4 linked regions of the Homo sapiens genome follow. The protein of the gene in region 2 purifies or fractionates together with the protein of the main gene of each other region. This does not show direct contact. Each region holds a gene or a part of one and is shown on either strand. Other genes may lie near its edges.

The links. The genes of interacting proteins can lie anywhere in the genome.
Region 1: the proteins of PAAF1 (region 2) and PSMC6 purify together in Homo sapiens (affinity purification with western blotting; 3 studies listed by BioGRID and IntAct, with this or other methods). This does not show direct contact.
Region 3: the proteins of PAAF1 (region 2) and ALDH16A1 purify together in Homo sapiens (affinity purification with mass spectrometry; one large-scale study listed by BioGRID and IntAct). This does not show direct contact.
Region 4: the proteins of PAAF1 (region 2) and SUPT6H purify together in Homo sapiens (affinity purification with western blotting; one study listed by BioGRID). This does not show direct contact.

What each region holds. Positions count from the first base shown.
Region 1 is NC_000014.9:52,713,700-52,717,199, forward strand, and holds part of PSMC6 (26S proteasome regulatory subunit 10B), read left to right. Parts: intron 1-181; coding exon 182-269; intron 270-3,500. UniProt on the Homo sapiens protein: Component of the 26S proteasome, a multiprotein complex involved in the ATP-dependent degradation of ubiquitinated proteins.
Region 2 is NC_000011.10:73,883,499-73,886,998, forward strand, and holds part of PAAF1 (proteasomal ATPase-associated factor 1), read left to right. Parts: intron 1-3,500. UniProt on the Homo sapiens protein: Inhibits proteasome 26S assembly and proteolytic activity by impairing the association of the 19S regulatory complex with the 20S core.
Region 3 is NC_000019.10:49,459,725-49,463,224, forward strand, and holds part of ALDH16A1 (aldehyde dehydrogenase family 16 member A1), read left to right. Parts: coding exon 1-124; intron 125-1,097; coding exon 1,098-1,175; intron 1,176-1,894; coding exon 1,895-2,076; intron 2,077-2,159; coding exon 2,160-2,312; intron 2,313-2,845; coding exon 2,846-3,031; intron 3,032-3,500.
Region 4 is NC_000017.11:28,689,705-28,693,204, forward strand, and holds part of SUPT6H (transcription elongation factor SPT6), read left to right. Parts: intron 1-377; coding exon 378-525; intron 526-1,216; coding exon 1,217-1,359; intron 1,360-3,500.

The DNA of each region.
Region 1 (3,500 bases), on a different chromosome or scaffold from region 2:
GATCTTAAATCTACCTGGAGCAAAACCTCTTAATATAAATGGTTTTACCTAGCATGGAAGTCTAGGTCTATTAAGAATTATGATGTGTACACCTAACTAAGGTGATATTTGACTTAGAGTATTTGAAAGTACATTAAAAATCTTGACTAACTTTTTAAGAAAGATTTAACTTCTTTTCTAGGTGATAGAATTACCTCTTACAAACCCAGAGTTATTTCAGCGTGTAGGAATAATACCTCCAAAAGGCTGTTTGTTATATGGACCACCAGGTTGGTATTGAATTATTTCTACTCCACCAATAAGATAAATGAATTAAGGAATTAAAAAAAAAAAGACAATTTTTTTATTTTTATTTTTTTGAGACACGGTCTCACTCTGTTGCCCAGGCTGTAGTGCAGTGGCACAATCTGGGCTAACTGCAACCTCTGCCTTCCGGGCTCAAGTGATTCTCCCACCTCAGTCTCCCACGTAGCTGGGACTGCAGGCGTGCATCACCATGTCTGGTTAATTTTTGTATGTTTTGTAGAGAAGCAATTTTGCCATATTGCTCAGGCTATCTCAAACTCCTGGACTCAAGCGATCTGCCCACCTTAGCCTCCCAAAATGTTGGGATTACAAGCATAAACCACTGCGCCTGGCCATAAGGTGGAAATTTGATGTGGGCAGTTCCAACTTCTCCTCTCTTCAGAGTGAGAATGAGATAGGATATTTATGTCTACTGTTCTTTGAGGCATGCTTAGTGCATTTGTGCCTCACAGTACATTTATCTTAACAGGCCATGTGATTCTAGTGCAACAGTCCTCAAATTGTGGTTCACAGACCCAGAGGTGCTTTCATGGACTCTGTAAGGTCAAAACTACTTTATAATACTGAAATGTTAAGCCAGGCGCAGTGGCTCACACCTGTAATCCCAGCACTTCGGGAGGCCGAGGCAGGCAGATCACCAGAGGTCAGGAGTTTGAGAGCAGCCTGGCCAACCAACATGATGAAACCCTGTCTCTACTAAAAATACAAAAATGAGCCAGGCGTGGTGGCGTGCACCTGTAATCCCAGCTACTCGGGAAGCTGAGGCAGGAGAATTGCTTGAACCTGGGAGGCAGAGGTTGCAGTGAGCCGAGATTGCCCCACTGCACTCCAGCCTGGCTGACAGAGTGAGACTCCTTCTCAAAAAAAAAAAAAAAAAAAAAAATTTTTTTATATAAAGCAAATGTACCTATAGCATACTGCTTGACATATGTAGCCCCACAATGACACAAAACAAAAAACTAAAATGTTGTTTGGCTCTTCCACTGTGTTGACATTTGTGCTGATGGTGCAAGAGCACCATGGGTAAAATTAAATTACTTGCACTGTAGTGTGAATCAGCATTAGTGGCATGAAACGGTGCTAGTTAGTAGCCATTGCGTTCTTGACTGCCACATACTTGCAGTGTAAAAAAAAAAAAAGTCAGTTTCACTATAAAGTCCTTGGTGAAACAGTAAAAATTATTAATTTTGTTAAATCTTCATCTTTGGGTAATATTTTGTGTTCTTCATGATAAAAGGGAAAATAAATATAAAGTACTGCTGCATATTGAATAAGATAGTTGTCTTTAGGAAAAGCACTTGTGCAGTTATTTAAGTTGCCAGCTGAATTCATTGCTTTTTATGGAATACTATTTTTGCTTGAATGGACCATTTACAGATATGCTGTGATTATCAGACTGGTTATTGGTTATTAGTTATTGATTACTCAAGACTGGTTTTTGGTTATTTGGCGCACATTTTTTCCAAAGCGAACAAATTAAGCCTGTCATGTTAAACAACTGACACCATCTATTGCCATTGATAAAATATGAAATGTCAAGTGAAAATTAGAATTTTTAGAAACATATATCTGGCACTATGTGGTTGAAGCTTTTTCTTTTTTTCTTTTCTTTTCTTTTTTTTTTTTTTGATAAGGTGTTACTCTGTTACCCAGGCTGGAGTGCAGTGGCGTGATCATCCTGGCTCGCTGCAACTTCTGCCTCTTGGGCTCAGGTGATTCTTCCACCTCAGCCTCCTGAGTAGCTGGTACTACAGGTGTGTGCCACCATGCCAGGCTAATTTTTGTGTTTTTAGTAGAGGCAGGGTTTTGCCATGTTGCCCAGGCTGGTCTTGAATTCCTGGGCTCAAGCAACCCGCCCACCTCAGCCTCCCAAAGTGCTGGGATTACAGGCATGAGCCACAATGTCCAGCCACGGCAGCTTTCTAATATATTAATACTTAAAGACTTTTCTGATGAGATAAGTGGTGAGAATAACAAAAATTTTTTATAATGTGTGGTGGAAAATGTCAACATTTGGAAGATTTGCATAACTCAACCAGTAGTTTCCAAATAATCAATGCTTGATATTAAAATATTCATAAGTAAAAGATCCAGTCAGTGCACAGGATAGACCAATGTATTTTAATGTAACAGAAGTTTCTGTCATAGTCCATGTTGTAAGTAGATAGCTATTATAAAAAAGACAAAAGTGTTTGCAAGATGTAGAGAAAAGAGAAAGAACCCTTGTACACTACTGGTGGGAATGTAAATTAGCACAGCCATTTTTGAAAACATGGAGGTTCCTCAAAAAACTAAAAATAGAATTACCATATGATTCAGCAATCCCACTTCTGGGTTTATATCTAAAGGAATTGAAATCAGTGTGTCAGAGATAGCTGCACTCCCATGATTATTTCACAATAGCCAAGATATAGAAACAGCCTAAAAATTGCCCATCAATGGATGAATGGATAAAGAAAATGTGGTAGCCGGGTGCAGTGGCTCATACCTGTAGTGCCAACACTTTGGGAGGCCGAGGCGGGCGGATCACCTGAGGTCGGGAGTTCGAGACCAGCCTGACCAACATGGAGAAACCCCGTCTCTGCTGAAAATACAAAATTAGCTGGGTGTAGTAGTTCATGCCTGTAATCCCAGCTACTCGGGAGGCAGAGGCAGGAGAATCACTTGAACCTGGGAGGCAGAGGTTGCAGTGAGCTGAGATCATGCCATTGCACTCCAGCCTGGGCAACAAGAGTGAAACTCCATCTCAAAAAAAAAAGAAAAAGAAATGTGGTAAATACACACATTGGAATACTATTCAGCCTTAAAAAAGGAAACTCTGTCATTTGTGACAATATGGATGAATCTAGAGGATGTTATACTAAGTGAAATAAGCCAGACACAGAAAGACAGTTACCACATAATCTCATTTTCATGTGGAATCTTAAAAAATTGAACTCGTAGAAACCAAGAGTAGAATGGTGGTTACCAGAAGTTGTGGTGGTGTATGGGGATAGGGGAGATGTTGGTCAAAGGATATAAAGTTCACTTAGACAGGAGGAATAAGTTCTAGGTGACATATTGCATAGCATGGTGACTATAATTAATAATGTATTAGCTATTTCAAAATTGCTAAAAGTAGATTTTAAATGTTCTAACCACAAAGTAATGCTAAGCATGTGAGGTGATGGATATGTTGATTTGCCTGATTTAAT
Region 2 (3,500 bases):
TCACTTAGTATAATGTTTCTTTCTTTCTTTTTTTTTTGAGAGTCTCACTGTGTCGTCTAGGCTGAAGTATAGTGGCACAATCTCGGCTCCTCACTGCAGCCTTCACCTCCCAGGTTCAAGTGATTTTTGTGCCTCAGCCTCCTGAGTAGTTGGGATTACAGGCGCCTGCCACCACACCCGGGTAATTTTTGTATTTTCAGTAGAGACGAACGAGGTTTCGACATGTTGGCCAGGCTGGTCTTGAACTCTTGGCCTCAAGTGATCCTCCCACCTCGGCCTCCCAAAGTGCTGGGATTACAGGCAACTTAGTATAATGTTTCTATTTGTTGTTTTTATCAGTACTTCGTTCCTTTTTGTGGCCCGGTAATACTCTGTTGTATGGATATACTACATTTTGTTTATCCATTCATCAATTAATGGACACATATTTCTAGTTTTTGGCTATTATGAAGGAAGGAGATTTTGATGGCAGGATAGATGGCATGAGAACCAGCTGCTGTGGGGAATGGGAGGGGTGAAAGGATTACAAAACTGCTGAGTTTAGAAACATGAATTGGATTGGTGACAGTCGGCACAGTTGTGTTCTTTTCTGGAGCAGTACTCAGCAGCCTGCATGTAGGAATGTAGAAGGTAAGTGGTTGGATTGATCCTAGTTCTGCTATTATATAGAGAAAACCAAGGCTGAGGTCATTTTAGTGACTTCACAAATGTAGAGAAGTCAGCTGGGCAGGGTAACTCACCCTGTAATCCAAGCACTTTGGGAGGCTGAGGCAGAAGGATTGCTTGAGCCCAGCAGTTCGAGACCAGTCTGAGCAACATAGTGAGACTCTGTCTCTACTAAAAATAAAAATAAAAAAAATAGCTGGGCATGGTGGCATGCAGGCTACTCAGGAAGCTGAGGCGGGAGAATCCCTTGATTCTGGGAGATAGAGGCTGCAGTGAACCATGATCATACCACTGCACTCCAGCCTGGGTGACAGAGCGAGACCCTGTCTCAAATATTAAAAAAATACATATATATACATCCACAAATGTGGAGAAGTCATTGAGTGATTGGTTGAAATGATGCACCATGAGGGCCAGACTTCTTAAGGCAGTTGGTAAACACAATAGGGAATCATGGAGTGGGATAAAAAGTGAAGTTGCTTCAGTTCTGTTTTTGTGGCATCTTTCTGAAATAGTGCTTCATGATACTTCCCTGTGAAAAGCGTCTTTACTAGGTCTTCTCTAGGCCAAACTTCTACCCTAGACTTTGAGTTTCTCTGGGATTTATCCCTCAACTATCATTTCCATGACTGCTATTACCAAACTGGTGTATTAATTGATGAATCCTTCCTTCTTGTTCTTTTTGACTTTCTTTTATTCTTTTTTTTTTTTTTGAGACGGAGTCTCGCTCTGTCGCCCAGGCTGGAGTGCAGTGGCGGGATCTCGGCTCACTGCAAGTTCCGCCTCCCGGGTTCACGCCATTCTCCTGCCTCAGCCTCCCAAGTAGCTGGGACTACAGGCGCCCGCCACTACGCCCGGCTAATTTTTTGTATTTTTAGTAGAGACGGGGTTTCACCGTTTTAGCCGGGATGGTCTCGATCTCCTGACCTCGTGATCCACCCGCCTCGGCCTCCCAAAGTGCTGGGATTACAGGCGTGATATTCTTTTTTTTTGAGATGGAGTCTCACTCTGTCACCCAGGCTGGAGTGCAATGGCGTGGTCTCGGCTCACTGCAACCTCTGCTTGCCAGGTTCAAGGTATTCTCCTGCTTCAGCCTCCTGAGTATCATAGCTGGGACTACAGGCACGTGCCACCACACCTGGCTAATTTTTGTATTTTTAGTAGAGAAGAGGTTTCACTATGTTGGCCAGGCTGGTCTTGAACTCCTGACCTTGTGATCCACCCACCTTGGGCTCCCAAAGTGCTGAGATTACAGGTGTGAGCCACCATGCCCGGCTGACTTTCTTTTATTCTTGATATGCTCCTCCTTGACTTGGAGTTTTCTTTTCCCTATTTTCTTCCTAGCCAGCTCCTATCTTTCTTTGAGGCTCCTATACTCTCTAGAAAGCCCTCCCGGCCTGGTCGTGGTGGCTCACACCTGTAATCCCAGCACTTCGGGAGGTTGAGGTGGGTGGATCACCTGAGGGGAGGAGCTCAAGACCAGCCTGGCCAATATGGTGAAACCCCGTCTCTACTAAAAATACAAAAATTAGCCAGGTGTGGTGGCACGTGCCTTTAATCCCAGGTACTTGGGAGGCTGAGTCATGAGAACTGCTTGAACCCAGGAGGTGGAGGTTGCAGTGAGCTGAGATCACGCCATTGTACTCCAGCCTGGGCGACAAGAGTGAAACTCCATCTCAAAAAAAAAAAAAAAAAAATCCCTCCCACTCTTGTGTGAATCCATGATGATTTCTGCTTCTCTCCTGTAACTTCAGTTTGGCTCAACATTTATTTACTGAATAATAAATGAATGTAGCACCCTGCTAGACTTAAGGACTTCACAGTCTGTTGGGCAAGTCAGACATGTAAACAGTGTGTTATGGGCTGTTATAGACATGAATATATAAGGTGTAGAAGAAGAATGGAAACAGTTTTTAACTTCATTCTATCATCTGCGTGTGTTTATGTGTAGGATAGTATCTTACTTAGCCCATATCTCTGCAAAATCAGTATTCTACTTAGGCAAATTTTACAGGTTACTGAAGCTTAATTCTTTACTATGTATTATGTGTATATACTGTAGATAAATACATGTATGCATACTGATCTTCACCTTTCATCCTGGAAGAATTACATTTCACAGCCAGTTACATCAGGTTGAGATCACTCTAAAAGCCCTCTCTACAAATGCTGTATCAAATCTCTAAATCTTTGTTCTTAGCTTTTAGTCTTGAAAATGTATTTTAGTCAGGCCAGGCGCGGTGGCTCACGCCTGTAATCCCAGCACTGTGGGAGGCTGAGGCGAGTGGATCACGAGGTCAGGAGATCGAGTCCATTCTGGCTAACATGGTGAAACCCCATCTCTACTAAAAATACAAAAAATTAGCCGACATGGTGGCGGGTGCCTGTAGTCCCAGCTGTTCGGAGGCTGAAGCAGGAGAATGGTGTGAACCCAGGAGGTGGAGATTCCAGTGAGCTGAGATCACGCCACTGCACTCCAGCCTGGGCGACAGAGCAAGACTCCATCTCAAAAAAAAAAAAAAAAAAAAAAAAAAGAAAATGTATTTTAGTCTTGAAAGTGTATTCCCTTTCAAATTAGAGTTTAGTGCTATAGTGTGTATGTTTGACCCCTCCAAATCTCATGTTGAAATTTAATCCTCAGTGTTGGAGGTAGGGCCTAATGGGGGGTGTTTGGGTCATGGGGGCAGACCCCTCATGAATAGATTAATGTCCTCCCTGGAGAGTGAGAGTGACTGAGTTCTCACTCTGTTCTTTCCTGAGAAAGCTGATTGTTAAAAAGATCCTGGCATCTCCCTTCTCTCTCTTACTTCCTCTCTCACCATGTGATCTCTGCA
Region 3 (3,500 bases), on a different chromosome or scaffold from region 2:
GTGACTGGGCGGGCTGTTCGAGAGGTTCGAGACGGGGACGTCCAGCTGGCCCAGCAGCTGCTCCACTACCATGCAATCCAGGCATCCACCCAGGAGGAGGCACTGGCAGGCTGGGAGCCCATGGGTGAGACCCTGGAGTCCCTAGCCCTATCCTCCCACATGACTCAGCAGTGCTAGCTCCAGTCCCCTCATTCTTTTTCTTTTAGACAGAGTTTCGCTCTTGTCGCCCAGGCCGGAGTGCAGTGGCGCAATCTTGGCTCACTATAACCTCCGCCTCCCGGGTTCAAGTGATTCTCCTGCCTCAGCCTCCTGAGTAGCTGGAATTACAGGCACCCACCACCACACCTGGCTAATTGTTATATTTTTATTAGAGAAGAGGGGTCTCATCATGTTGGTCAGGCTGGTCTCAAACTCCTAACCTCAGATGATTCACCTGCCTTGGCATCCCAAAGTGCTGGGATTACAGGCATGAGCCACCGTGCCCGGTCCCCTCATTCTTTTTCTTTTGTTTTTGTTTTTGTTTTTTTCTTTTTCAGACAGGGTCTTTCTCTGTCACCCTGGCTGGAGTACAGTGGTGCAATTATAGCTCACTGATACCTCGACCTCCTGGGCTCAAAATCCTCCCACCTCAGCCTCCCAAGTAACTGGGACTACGACCATGCACCACCACACCTGACTAGTTTTTGTTTTTGTTTTTTTTTTTTTTGAGATGGAGTTTCGCTCTTTGTTGCCCAGGCTGGAGTGCAGTGGTGCGATCTCGGCTCACTGGAACCTCCGCCTCCCGTGTTCAAGTGATTCTCCTGCCTCAGCCTCCCGAGTAGCTGGGACTACAGGCATGCACCACCACGCCTGGCTAATTTTGTGTTTTTAGTGGAGATGGGGTTTTTCCATGTTGGTCAGGCTGGTCTCGAACTTCCCACCTCAGGTGATCCGCCCACCTCGACCTCCCAAAGTGCTGAGATTACAGGCGTGAGCCACCACACCCGGCCATTTTTTTTTTTTTTTCCTAATGTAGCCATGGGGTCTTGCCATGTGGCCCAGGCTGGACTTAAACACCTAGCCTCAAGGGATCCTCTTGCCTCATTTTTTTCTTGCAGGAGTAATTGGCCTCATCCTGCCACCCACATTCTCCTTCCTTGAGATGATGTGGAGGATTTGCCCTGCCCTGGCTGTGGGTAAATGATGGCCTGGGGGGTCCTGACTCTTGGGTCTGAGAAAGGAGGGGATCGTGGGGCCCAAACTCCAGAGTCTGAGAGACAAGGGGGCTGGAGGCCTGGACTCTGTGGAAGGAGTCTGTGGGAGGAGGGGCTGCGGGTCTGAACTCCTAGGTCTGAGGGAGGAGGAGCTGGAGTCTGGACTCCTGAGTCTGAGGGAGGAGGAGCTGGAGTCTGGACTCCTGAGTCTGAGGGAGGAGGGGCTGGAGTCTGGACTCCTGGGTCTGAGGGAGGAGGGGCTGGGGTCTGGATTCCTGGGTCTGAGGGAGGAGGGGCTGGGGTCTGGACTCCTGGGTGTGAGGGAGGAGGGGCTGGGGTCTGGACTCCTGGGTCTGAGGGAGGAGGGGCTGGGACCTGGACTCCTGGGTCTGAGGGAGGAGGGGCTGGGACCTGGACTCCTGGGTCTGAGGGAGGAGGGGCTGGAGTCTGGACTCCTGGGTCTGAGGGAGGAGGGGCTGGAGTCTGGACTCCTGGGTCTGAGGGAGGAGGGGCTGGGCCTGGACTCCGGGGTCTGAGGGAGGAGGGGCTGGGGGCCTGGACTCCTGAGTCTGAGGGAGGAGGGGCTGGAGTCTGGACTCCTGGGTCTGAGGGAGGAGGGGCTGGGGGTCCAGATTCCTGGGTCTGAGGGAGGAGGGGCTGGGCCTGGACTCCTGGGCCTTTGAGCTGCCCCACTTCCCCAGGCTGCACCGTGGTGGCCCTCGTGCCCCCGGCCTCCCCGGCGCCCCTCCTCCTGGCCCAGCTGGCGGGGGAGCTGGGCCCCTTCCCGGGAATCCTGAATGTCCTCAGTGGCCCTGCGTCCCTGGTGCCCATCCTGGCCTCCCAGCCTGGAATCCGGAAGGTGGCCTTCTGCGGAGCCCCGGAGGTACCTTCGGGACAGGGGTCGTGGCGGAACGCGGCTGGGGGCCGCAAGGCTCCTCCTGCGGCTGAACTGGGGGGGGTCCCTAGGAAGGGCGTGCCCTTCGACGGAGCCTGGCGGGAGAGTGTGCGGAGCTGGGCCTGGCGCTGGGGACGGAGTCGCTGCTGCTGCTGACGGACACGGCGGACGTAGACTCGGCCGTGGAGGGTGTCGTGGACGCCGCCTGGTCCGACCGCGGCCCGGTGAGACCCGTGCGCTCCCGTCTCCTCATACCCTGGAGGCCGTTGGTGTCTGTCTCCAGTCTTCGGGGTCCCGAGTCTCTGTTCATTTTATTTTATTTTATTTTATTTATTTTGAGACGGAGTTTCACTCTTGTCGCCCAGGCTGGGGTGCAGCGGCGCGATTTTGGCTCACCGCAACCTCTGCCTCCCAGGTTCAGCCTGGGAGTAGCTGCCTCAGCCTCCCGAGTAGCTGGGATTACAGGCGGGCACCACCATGCCTGGCTAATTTATGTATTTTTAGTAGAGACGGGGTTTCACCATGTTGGCCAGGCTGGTCTCGAACTCCTGACCTCAGGTGATCCGCCCACCTCGGCCTCCCAAAGTGCTGGGACTGCAGGTGTGAGCCACCGCATCCGGCCTCTCTGTTCTTTAGGACTCTGTTGATTTATCTGAGTGTCCATGTCCCTAGTTTTCCAGCCTCTGTCTTCACTCTTCAGATCACCAACTTGCTAGAGTGCAATGGTGTGATCTCCTGATGCCCCTTTTCCTCACAGGGTGGCCTCAGGCTCCTCATCCAGGAGTCTGTGTGGGATGAAGCCATGAGACGGCTGCAGGAGCGGATGGGGCGGCTTCGGAGTGGCCGAGGGCTGGATGGGGCCGTGGACATGGGGGCCCGGGGGGCTGCCGCATGTGACCTGGTCCAGCGCTTTGTGCGTGAGGCCCAGAGCCAGGGTGCACAGGTGAGGCAGGGGGTAGAGACTTGAGGGTGTCAGGGGAGGAGGGGCCTGGAGACCCAGCTCCTGGGTCCAAGGGAGGAGGGAGCTGGGCGTGGACAACTGGGTCCGAGGAAGGAGGGGCTGGGAGCCTGGACTCCTGGGTCTGAAGGAGGAGGGGCTGGGCCTGGACTCCTGGGTCTGAGGGAGGAGGTGCTGGGGCCTGGATTCCTGGGTCTGAGGGAGGAGGGGCTGGGGCCTGGACTCCTGGGTCTGAGGGAGGAGGGGCTGGGCCTGGACTCCTGGGTCTGAGGGAGGAGGTGCTGGGGCCCGGATTCCTGGGTCTGAGGGAGGAGGGGCTGGGGCCCGGATTCCTGGGTCTGAGGGAGGAGGGGCTGGGGGTCCAGACTCCTGGGTCTGAGGGAGGAGGGGCTGGCGGCCTGGACTCCTGGGTCTGAGGGAGGAGAGGCTGGGGGTCCAGACTCCTGGGTCTGAG
Region 4 (3,500 bases), on a different chromosome or scaffold from region 2:
GGGCTCCTCAAGGAAGTTTTTGGTCTGCTTGTTAAGGAGCCAGGGAAGTCTCAGAGATTGCCACCATAATTACAAGGGGCAGGAGGGAGTTGGGAGGATGTCAGTACTACAGTTTCCGTCTAGGCCCCCTTTCCTCCTTTCTAACAGCACAGCTTTGCATTTATCTGTGGACTCATTGGGGTTCCATAAAGCATTTTGATTACAGTGTTTCATGGCTAAGTTTGAAAACCACCTTTAGTAAATGTTGATGGAAAGAAAAGAAGAAGCCCTGACAGAAACTTACTCCCATCTGGAGAGGCCCGCCCCTTCCACGGGACTCCTTGAGGCTCAGGTTGGGGGGCAGCTGCAAGGCTCTTCTTGATGGGCTTCTTCCCCAGGGCTATGGTGACAAACACATCACACTCTATGACATCCGGGCAGAGCTGAGCTGTCGATATAAGGACCTCCGGACAGCCTACCGCTCTCCCAACACAGAGGAGATCTTCAATATGTTAACCAAAGAAACACCAGAGACCTTCTACATTGGTAAATTCTGGGGTCATTTTTTTATTGGGGGCAGGAGGTGTGTTTACTGTGTACATTCAAACCAAGCAGCAGTTCCAACAGATTGAGGCAGGTTTGTGTTGTACATGGGGAAGGCCAGGAGAGCATTTTAAAAGACTAAAGAGTCCTGGACTGGAAATCAAAACTGAATTTAAGGTCAAATGTGCTTCCAGTGTGCTATGGAATCTTCATGCAGTTAGTCTTCTTATAGGCTTTATTTTCCCCTATCATCAAATCAGGGGAACGGCCAGGCACAGTGGCTCATGCCTGTAATCCCAGCACTTTGGGAGGCCAGGGCAGGCAGACTGCTTGAGGCCAGGAGTTCGAGACCAGTCTGGGCAACATGGTGAAACCCCATCTCCACTAAAAATAAAAAATTAGCTGAGCGTGGTGGTGGGCACCTGTAATCCCAGCTACTCGGGAGGCTGAGGCAGGAGGATTCCTTGAACCTGGGAGGCAGAGGTTACAGTCAGCCAAGATAGCACCACTGCACTGCAGCCTGGGCAACAGAGCAAGACTTCATCTCAAAAATAAATAAATAAATAAAAATCGGGAAGAGTTCCCTCTTCAAGGATGGGAAGGAAGTCAGATATTCTGTCACTGAAAGGCTGGTGGAAAGAAGTGCTCTCCACATTCTCTGAGCCTGCTCCCCATCCTCTTTTCCTTCTTGCAGGAAAGCTCATCATCTGCAATGTCACTGGCATTGCCCACAGGCGTCCCCAGGGTGAGAGCTATGACCAGGCGATCCGCAATGATGAGACAGGGCTGTGGCAGTGCCCCTTCTGTCAGCAGGACAATTTCCCTGAACTAAGCGAGGTGTGTGCTGCAGCATTATCCTGCTCAGTGGATTTCCTTGGTTGAATGATCTCGGTGCCTAGAAGGGAATCAGAAATGAGGGTGTTCTAGATCATTCTCTCACCAAACAAGTACACAAAGAAGGAAGACGGACGGGAAACACACAGGTTTAGCATGAAGTCCCTTCTGAGAAGGCTGACATAGCTGGGCACGGTGGCTCACGCCTATAATCCTAGCACTTTGGGGGCCAAGGTGGGCGGTTCATCTGAGATCAGGGGTTCGAGACCAGCCTGGCCAAGATGGTGAACCCCCGTCTCTACTAAAAATACAAAAATTAGCCAGTTGTGGTGGCATACGCCTGTAATCCTAGCTACTCGAGAGGCTGAGGCAGGAGAATGACTTGAACCGAGGAGGCGGAGTTTGCAGTGAGCCGAGATCATACCACTGCACTGCAGCCTGGGTGACAGAATGAGACTTCATCTCAGAAAAGGAAAAAAAAAGGCTGACTTAGAAACTTCTTATGGTCGGCCGGGCGCAGTAGCTCACGCCTGTAATCCCAGCACTTTGGGAGGCCGAGGCGGGCGGATCATGAGGTCAGGAGATCGAGACCATCCTGGCTAACACGGTGAAACCCCGTCTCTACTAAAAATACAAAAAATTAGCCAGGCACGGTGGCGGCCACCTGTAGTCCCAGCCACTCAGGAGGCTGAGACAGGAGAATGGCGTGAACCCAGGAGATGGAGCTTGCAGTGAGCCAAGATAGCAGCATTGCACTCCAGCCTGGGCGAAAGAGCGAGACTCCGTCTCAAAAAAAAAAAAAAAGAAACTTCTTATGGTCGCTGGGTCAAAACAAAATGGCAGACAGGCATGGTGGCACGTACGTATAGTGCCAGCTACATCAGAGGCTAATTTGGGAGGATTTCTTGAGCCCAGGAGTTCGAGGCCAGCCTGGGCAACATAGCAAGACCCCATCTCCTTTTTTAAAAAAAGGGAGGGGCTGGCCGGGCGCGGTGGCTCACTCCTGTAATCCCAGCACTTTGGGAGGCTGAGGCGGGCGGATCATGAGGTCAGGAGATCGAGACCATCCTGGCTAACACGGTGAAACCCTGTCTCTACTAAACAATACAAAAAATTAGCCAGGCATGGTGGTGGGCGCCTGTAGTCCCAGCTACTCGGGAGGCTGAGGCAGGAGAATGGTGTGAACCCGGGAGGCGGAGCCTGCAGTGAGCCGAGATTGCACCACTGTACTCCAGCCTGGGCGACAGCGAGACTCTGTCTCAAAAAAAAAAAAAAAGTGGGGAGGGGCCAGGCCGGGCACAGTGGCTCATGCCTGTAATCCCAGTACTTTGGGAGGCTGAGGCAGTTGGATCACCTGAGGTCAGGAGTTCCAGACCAGCCTGACCAACATGATGAAACCCCATCTCTACTAAAAATATAAGGATTAGCAGGGTGTGGTGGTGAGACTCCTATCTCAAAAAAAAACACAAAAGGGAGGGGCCTCAGTTGCAGCTAAAGGGATCTAAGTTGGATAAACATAAAAGAGGATGGGGCACAGTCACACCAGTAATCCCAGCACTTTCAGGGGCCGAGGCAGGTGGAGTGCTTGCCCAGGAGTTCAAGACCAACCTGAGCAACATGGCAAAACCCTATCTCTACAAAATAAAATTAGCCAGGCTTAACCGGGTGCAGTGGCTCACGCCTATAATCCCAGCACTTTGGGAGGCCAAGGTAGGTGGATCACGAGGTCAGGAGATCGAGGCCATCCTGGCTAACACAGTGAAACCCCATCTCTACTAAAAATACAAAAAATTAGCTGGGCATGGTGGCGGGCGCTTGTAGTCCCAGCTACTCGGGAGGCAGAGGCAGGAGAATGGCGTGAACCCGGGAGGCAGAGCTTGCAGTGAGCCAAGATTGTGCCACTGCACTCCAGCCTGGGCAACAGAGCAAGACTCTGTCTCAAAAAAAAAAAAAAAAAAGATTACCCAGACTTGGGGGCGTGCGCTTATAGTCCCAGCTACTCGAGAGGCCAAGGTGGAAGGATCACTCGAGCCTGGGAGGTTGAGGCTGCAGTGAACCCTGATTGCACCACTACACTTCAGCCTAGGCAAAAGAGTGATACTGTCATAAGAAAAAGATGGCTAGGTGTGGTGGCTCACGCCTGT